Homo sapiens: one gene and its partner. The protein of the gene in region 1 purifies or fractionates together with the protein of each later gene. This does not show direct contact. Each region holds a gene or a part of one and is shown in the gene's direction. Other genes may lie near its edges.

Region 1 (4,297 bases):
TTGTCTTAGATGCTGATTGACACAAAAATAATGCCTTTATGACTTTTTATTAAATAAAAGTTCATTTAATTTAACAGTACTTGAGTCCCTGCTACCTGCTTGGCACTGTGCCACACGCTGGAGGCATTCCAACTGAAGTCTCTCATCTCCAGAAGTTGACTCTTATCGAGCAGGAAATGGCTCTCAAAAGGGCCTCCAAAATCAAAACCATACTAAAGATTATTTGCTATTTTCATGCTCATTCTCTTACAAACGTGGAGTTTTCCAGAGGGTACATGATGTGTGATAAAGGGTAGTGGAGTGTGTCAAAGTTTTCTCTATTTTTTTTTTTTTTCTTTTTTGAGACGGAGTCTCACCCTGTCGCCCAGGCTGGAATGCAGTGGTGCAATCTCGGCTCACTGCAACCTCTGCCTCCCGAGTTCAAGCGATTCTTCTGCCCCAGCCTCCCAAGTAGCTGGGATTACAGGCGCGCGCCACTACGCCTGGCTAATTTTTGTATTTTTAGTAGAGATGGGGTTTCACTGTGTTGGTCAGGCTGGTCTCAAACTCTTGACCTCGTGATCTGCCCGCCTCGGCCTCCCAAAGTACAGGGAGGGATTACAGGCGTGAGCCACCGAGCCCAGCCGAAGTTTCCTCTATTTTAAGTTCTCATTAACTATTTATTAATAGGTATAACCCACACTTTTTTTAAAAAAAGCTCTTTGGAATCTTCCGTAATACACAAGAATATAAAGGCGTTCTGAGACCAAAAAGTTTGAGAACTGCTGCAATACAGGTCCGATGCATACCCAGGAAGCCGTCAGCAACAAAGAATACACTACAAATGACCACAGTCATGAACCTACAGTGTGAGGTTTGGTCCCACCCAGGTTGGGAGCCAAATGCGTGACTAAGTGGAGATGGCTAGGGTGTGGGTGAGGGGCAAAGGCAGGCTGAAAACACTGGAGAGACAGGCCCAGCTCTGCGCAAGGGCACACACCTCCTTCCTTTACACACTCAATACAAGCTGTAAATCCTTCTTTCGCAGGTCAGGGCATAACCTGGACCAAACGGGAAATTTAAGGCAAAATAAAAGCAGGACATTAACTTGGACCAACCGGGAAATTTAAGGCAGCCTCTCTGAACTAAATAGTTTAAAAATCTGTCCATTTAGTAGTAACCGCAAAGTTTGGCCTAGAGACTAAAACATCTGCTTCCTGATTTGGGGGTGGAGATGAAGTGGAGTGTAAGGTAGAAAACGGCGGGAAATGAAGACCTAAAGAAAGAAAGAACAGGCTTGGGGGAGGGTAAGAGGCACCGCAAGAAGCCAACGAATGACACCGACGCTGAGGCGCGTGCGCCAGCCCTCCGCATGCGCAGGCGGACGCCTGGTGTTCTCGCGGGAAAGAACCGTTGCGCCCGACTTTGCGCGGAGGTAGGAGGGGGAAGTGGAGGCGGGAGTGAAGTCTCGCGAGAAGAGTCGGTTGCCGTAGCAGAGCCCTCTAGCTGTGTGTGTCTGAGGCTCGGCCGCCTGAGCCGCGGACGGTTTGCTGAGCCCGTTAGTGCGCCCGGCCGAGACACGCCGCCGCCATGTCCCGCTACCTGCGTCCCCCCAACACGTCTCTGTTCGTCAGGAACGTGGCCGACGACACCAGGTAGGTACAAGGCAGGTACTCCGGGCCTAGGCGGGGAGGCCGCAGGCGCCTGGAGAGGACCCTGGTGGTGGCGGCACTGGGCCGGGGGAGGGGACGGAGTGAAGATGGCGGGTCCCGCGCCCGCTTTGGCGCCGAACTAGGCCGCGCAGCGGGCCTCAGCCGCCGCGTGGGAGCGAGGGCGGCGCCTCTGCCTTCGCCGGGCCGCGTGGCGGGGTTTTTCGGTCCCCCTCCCCCTCCGCAGTTTGCAGCCCCTTTCTCCCTGCTTCCTGCCGGCGCGAGCAGCCCCCCGCCGCGGCCTTTCCGCGACCCGACGGCCGCCCCCCATTGATTTGAAGTTCACATTCTTCGAGGTTCACGCCCCCTTGGCCCAGAGATTTTTTTTTTTCCCCAGCCAAAAAATAGTGAGATGAAATAACGGGATCGAGGGAGAGGAATGTTGCTACCATTTATCTTTGTTGTTGTTGCCGTTGTTAATATTTGGGGGTTTTAATCAGTTGGAGGTGTTTGGAGAAAGGGAGCGTTGAGATTTGGGGAGTTAGATTTTTCCAGTTAAATGTTGCGAGTAGTTTTTCTTATTTCCTGGAAATTCTGGTCACCCTTTGAAAAGGGAGGTTTGGGAAGCGTCAGTCATTAGGACGTTGACAGCTAAGTTAGATTAATTCAGACGTACCTTAAATAGGCTTTGTTCTCACCATTCCCTTGTTTCGAGTTGCCTTCAGATTATTTTGGAAGAGTTCTTACTACAAGATGAGGCTTTTTATTTCACAAATAATGAATCTACACACAGAAAATAAGTGGTTTGGGTTTTTGGTGTTTCGTGGGGGTTTTTTGCTAGCTTTGTGATTTGCTTTTGTCTTAAATTTAAGAAGGAAAGAAAGCAATAATTCTTTCCATAAATAATTCTTTCCATAATTTCTAATAGTTACGTTAGCATCTAGAGAAATTTTCTCTTTACGTCATCTTGACACTTAACTATTTAAGAAGTTCGATATTTGTGACTTTTTCAGACCATATTTATCTACTGTTAAGTGTGTAAATCTGTCGCTAAAATTGGGGAGTAAAAATAAGTGCTTGGTATTTTTCAGAGTGCTAGAGTCGATTTGATGCTGTAAAAGTAAAAAAAAAAAAAAAAACAAGGCTTATATACAACCTAATGCTGCTGTACCTTTTATGAAAAATGACGGCTGTAGATAAAAATAAGTTGTGGTCATTCCCTTGTACCATACATATGTCTGCTGTTGTCCTGTTAATGTAAACTGCATTTTTATCTTCCAAATTCTTGGATCCTAGCTTTCCTTCATCAAAAAGATATATTGCCTATACATCTTAAGGACTTGGACATAAAAATTTGAGGTCTTTTTATGATGTTTTAGGTCTGAAGACTTGCGGCGTGAATTTGGTCGTTATGGTCCTATAGTTGATGTGTATGTTCCACTTGATTTCTACACTCGCCGTCCAAGAGGATTTGCTTATGTTCAATATCCTTTCTTCAGATGGCTGATTAGTGAGGGGTGTTGAAGTTTGAAATTCAAGTTTATGTAAGTGGTAACATCTAAAAAGTAGTTCTTTTTGTCCTCTAATAAATGTCTGTCTTCAAATTTTTGAAAATTAATTCTGACTCACACATTGCTCTCGTTATTAAAGTTAATCCAAAAATGGTAAAATATATAAATTCCCATTCATGCTTCTGAAACTCATATCGATGATTATATATGTGATTTAAATTTGAATGCACTCTGGTTGCTACTACCTTTAATGTAAGTCCTTTAAAAGTTAATATGTTCTTGTGCTTAGCAATTAAAATTTGGTATTCTTGTTTGTTAATTTGAATCACTTGATCAAAAACAAATTGTATAACAATGAGGTAAACTTCTTTAATATTGTCCCCTAATTTGCTGTCCTCTGTTGTTACCTCAGAGAATGTAAAGCTGTACAGTTATGGCGACCCCAAAGAGAAAGCATGAAAGAACCTTTAGAGTAGAGTTCAACACTTAAGGCAAGTAGACAAGCCAAAGACCTCTTAAGGATCAGGCTTGAAGAGAAGGGAGAGTTTGGGAAAAGAAAAAATAAAGAAAAGCTGGAAGAAGGACAAGCCTAATGGGAGACAAAGCCTCGCTTTATCTACAAAAGGGGGAAAAGGTTGTTTTTCAAAGTTAAAGATAAAGCCATCTGTCATATTTGGCCAAGCATCTCATGACAAGTCCTTCTGACAAGCACTTAAAGAGTTAAAGGTCAAGATGAAGTTGAATGATGGCCAAGATTAAAGGAGTCATACCTGATGTATCCTACAGAATAACTATTTTTCTTTTTTTTTTTTTTAATGTTTTGTAAGCAGTTAATTTTCAAAATTATTCTGGTTTGGTCTAGTGACAAAACCTGTAACTTGATTTATGTGGGCCTTTGATGTTGTGATTGTGGTCTTGTGTAAATGCACTCTCTCTTATGAAGTTAAAGTGTAACAGGATGTATATTCTTAAGATTAAATTCAGCATATTTTGGTTTTGGACCAGGTGGTCAGATGCCACGGAGTAGCAGGCAGTGCTCTTTGGAGTAGCGTGGGGTTCTGGGGTTAAGCCACAGAGCCCTGCTTAAAGGAGAGACAGGTGCATGCACTGGGGACTACTTAGAAACAGCTCTGGTGGTCTTGTAGGGTCAGAACCACT
Region 2 (3,423 bases), about 70 Mb from region 1:
TGGCCAGGGTTTCTTCGAAGTTAACCCAGCTTACCTCTTCTCCAGTGGTACAGTATGCACCCTGGCTAAGCTGGTTTCTGGCACCCAAGGAGTGTTGGTCATTTCTGTTGATACTTGGTGAGTTGTAGCTTCCTTTATGTTACTATTCACTTTACCTCTATTTTTCCAGCATACTGCTTCCTTGAGATATCAGCAAATATGAAATCTTTTTTTTTTTTAATAATAGTTTTGGGGTACATGTGTAGAACATGCAGGTTACATAGGTATACACGTGCCATGGTGGTTTGCTGCACCCATCAACCTATCTACATTAGGTATTTCTCCTAGTGCTATCCCTCCCCTAGTCCCCCACCCACAACAGGCCCCAGTGTGTGATGTTCCCCTCCCTGTGTCCATGTGTTCTCATTGTTTACCTCCCACTTACGAGTAAGAACATGCAGTGTTTGGTTTTCTGTTCTTGTGTTAGTTTTCTGTTCTTGCTGAGATGATTTCCAGCTTCAGCCATGTCCCTGCAAAGGACATGAACTCATGCTTTTTTATGGCCACATAGTATTCCATGGTGTATATGTGCCACATTTTCTTTATCCAGTCTATCATTCATGGGCATTTGGGTTGGTTCCAAGTCTTTTCTATTGTGAACAGTGCCACAGTAAACATACTTGTGTATGTGTCTTTATAGTAGAATGATTTATAATCCTTTGGGTATATACCCAGTAATGGGATTGCTGGGTCAAATGGTATTTCTGGTCCTAGATCCTTGCGGAATCACCACACTGTCTTCCACAATGGTTGAACTAGTTTACACTCCCACCAACAGTGTAAAAGTGTTCCTAGTTCTCCATATCCTCTCCAGCATCTGTTGTTTCCTGACTTTTTAATGATTGCCATTCTAACTGGCAATGAGATGGTATCTCATTGTGGTTTTGATTTGCATTTCTCTAATGAGCAGTGATAATGAGCGTTTTTTCATGTTTGTTGGCTGCATAAATGTCTTCTTTTGAGAAGTGTCTGTTCATATCCTTCACCCACTTTTTGATGGGGTTTTTTCTTGTAAATTTGTTTAAGTTCTTTGTAGATTCTGGATATTAGCCCTTTGTCAGATGGATAGATTACAGAAATTTTCTCCCATTCTGTAGATTGCCTGTGCACTCTGATAATAGTTTCTTTTGCTGTGCAGAAACTCTTTAGTTTAATTAGATCCCACTTGTCAATTTTGCCTTTTGTTGCCATTGCTTTTGGTGTTTTAGTCATGCAGTCTGCCCATACCTATGTCCAAAATCTCATATTTACTGCTTGGAGTCAAAAGCTAGTAATAGCAGAACTGACAATAACATTCATAGTTGGAGTTAGGGAAGCATCTATGTCTGTTCTCTTTTATTTTAAAAAAAAACTACTTTTGTTTCTGGAATACTATGTTTTGCCTTCTACTGGATAAAATAAGGACCCAGTATGAGAGAATTGTATCCTTTAGTGCTTCTGGCCTTCTACAAATACCTGGATATTTAAATAATGGATGAAGTTATGTTTTGCTTTTTAATAAGCAAGTCTTTTGAGAAACAGGTTTTACTGACTTTGGCCTGTGTCACTAAACTCAGTTCACCTACTGGAACTTTTTTTTTTTTTTTTGAGACGTCTCACTCCATCACCCAGGTTGGAGTGCAGTGGTGCCATCTCAGCTCACTGCAACCTCCGCCTCCCAAGTTCAAGCGATTATCATACCTCAGCCTGCCAAGTAGCTGGGACTACTGGGCATGCCATTATGCCCAGCTAACTTTTGTATTTTTAGTAGAGATGGGGTTTTGCCATCCTTACCTCAAGTGATCCACCCGCCTCGGCCTCCCAAAGTGCTGGGATTACAGGTGTGAGCCACCATGCCCAGCCAACTGGAACTATTTGAAGGCTTTATACCAGAAAAGTATAAAGAATCCAAAGGGCTGCCACAGTCAGGTGTGCTGGTGAAAGAGACCTTCAAGATACCCCTGAGAAGATCTTGAAAGATTTCGAAAAGAATGCTGTATTTATACACCATCTGGCTCCAAGATGCTTTTTTTTTTTTTTTTTTTGAGAGACGGACTCTCGCTCTGTCGCCCAGGCTGGAGTGTAGTGGCATGATCTTGGTTCACTGCAACCTCCGCCTCCCGGGTTCAAGCAATTCTGCCTCAGCCTCCCAAGTACCTGGGATTAACAGGCACCCACCACCACACCCGGCTAATTTTTGTATTTTTAGTAGAGACGGGGTTTCACCATGTTGGCCAGGCTGGTCTTGAACTTCTGACCTCAGGTGATCCACCGGCCTCAGCCTCCCAAAGTGCTGGGATTACAGGCAGGAGCCACCACGTCTGGCCCAAAATGTTCTTAAAACAAAGTAGATGCTGTAAGACTACAGTTGATAAAGTTGGGCTCTGGGCTAGGTTCTTAGCATCCAACACAATCAGTTCTGTGTTCAGTGTTCTGCTGTATGATAAACCAACTGCTCTAGAGAAACACCAATATTCCTCTTCTGAAACCTGGGAAAATGTCTTTTTTGGGTCCCATAACTAGATGTCACAAAAGGAGTGGGGAGTGGGGAGGCTATATAAAAAAGTTCAACAAAACCTTAGTAACTGGTATACATTAATAGGATCCCATTCTTAGAAACAGCAAGTTAAAGAAAATACCATAATGGGAAAAAAAAGTTAACATTTCTGAGAGATGTACCAGGTATTCAGTCTCTCAGGCAGTGACAACTTGTTCAGAATAATTACCTACAATAGATCCCAAACCATTGAAAAATGCCTAATTGTTTACTTAATGGAATTTGTACTTACTATTTAATTAGATGAATATCTTTATTGAAAGTTTTCAGTAAGGGTTGCAACAAAAAGGGCTTTCTAATTAACCAATTCCCCAAGCATCTGTCTAATTAAAATGTAAAGTGCAATTATTCTCATTGTCACATAGTTTTTGAAGTGAAGAAAAATCTTCCAAGAAGTAGGATCAATACCATGACCTATAATTAAATGTCATAAGCGGATCAGTGTTCTATCACTGGAGAAATGAGACATCTCCAATGAACTATGAAATGTAAAATTAGGTAAGTTTGTGCATAGAGGATTTCTAGGAGGACATACAAGACATACCTTCAAATCAAGATGGCCCTGTAGTTCCTCAAGCTCAATTTTATCAATTCCAGTTACCCTCATTTCCAGTTCACTTTAGCGAATCACTATCATGGCCTTAGACTCGTTGTTTGAGAATTCAGTGGTCAAGATTCTTAACTCAGACTACCCCAATTTGTATCTTGTTATCTGTTATCCTGTTAGTCTTCCCTTCAGTTGTCTCCAACTTAGCCTTGGCTGCAATTTGGAATTACCTATGGTGGCTTCAAAATGCTGATGCCTGGGTCTCACCCCCCAAACATTGTGAAATCATGATTTCAAGCCT

Evidence for each region. The genes of interacting proteins can lie anywhere in the genome.
Region 2: the proteins of SRSF10 (region 1) and DNTTIP2 purify together in Homo sapiens (affinity purification with mass spectrometry, with the first as the bait; one large-scale study listed by BioGRID). This does not show direct contact.

Annotation. Positions count from the first base shown.
Region 1 is NC_000001.11:23,977,528-23,981,824, reverse strand, and holds the start of SRSF10 (serine/arginine-rich splicing factor 10), read left to right. Parts: upstream 1-1,497; 5' UTR 1,498-1,569; coding exon 1,570-1,634; intron 1,635-3,007; coding exon 3,008-3,112; exon of another isoform or gene 3,113-3,172; intron 3,173-3,196; exon of another isoform or gene 3,197-3,914; intron 3,915-4,297. UniProt on the Homo sapiens protein: Splicing factor that in its dephosphorylated form acts as a general repressor of pre-mRNA splicing. Seems to interfere with the U1 snRNP 5'-splice recognition of SNRNP70. Required for splicing repression in M-phase cells and after heat shock.
Region 2 is NC_000001.11:93,865,784-93,869,206, reverse strand, and holds the end of DNTTIP2 (deoxynucleotidyltransferase terminal-interacting protein 2), read left to right. Parts: 3' UTR 1-2,923; downstream 2,924-3,423. UniProt on the Homo sapiens protein: Regulates the transcriptional activity of DNTT and ESR1. May function as a chromatin remodeling protein. Part of the small subunit (SSU) processome, first precursor of the small eukaryotic ribosomal subunit.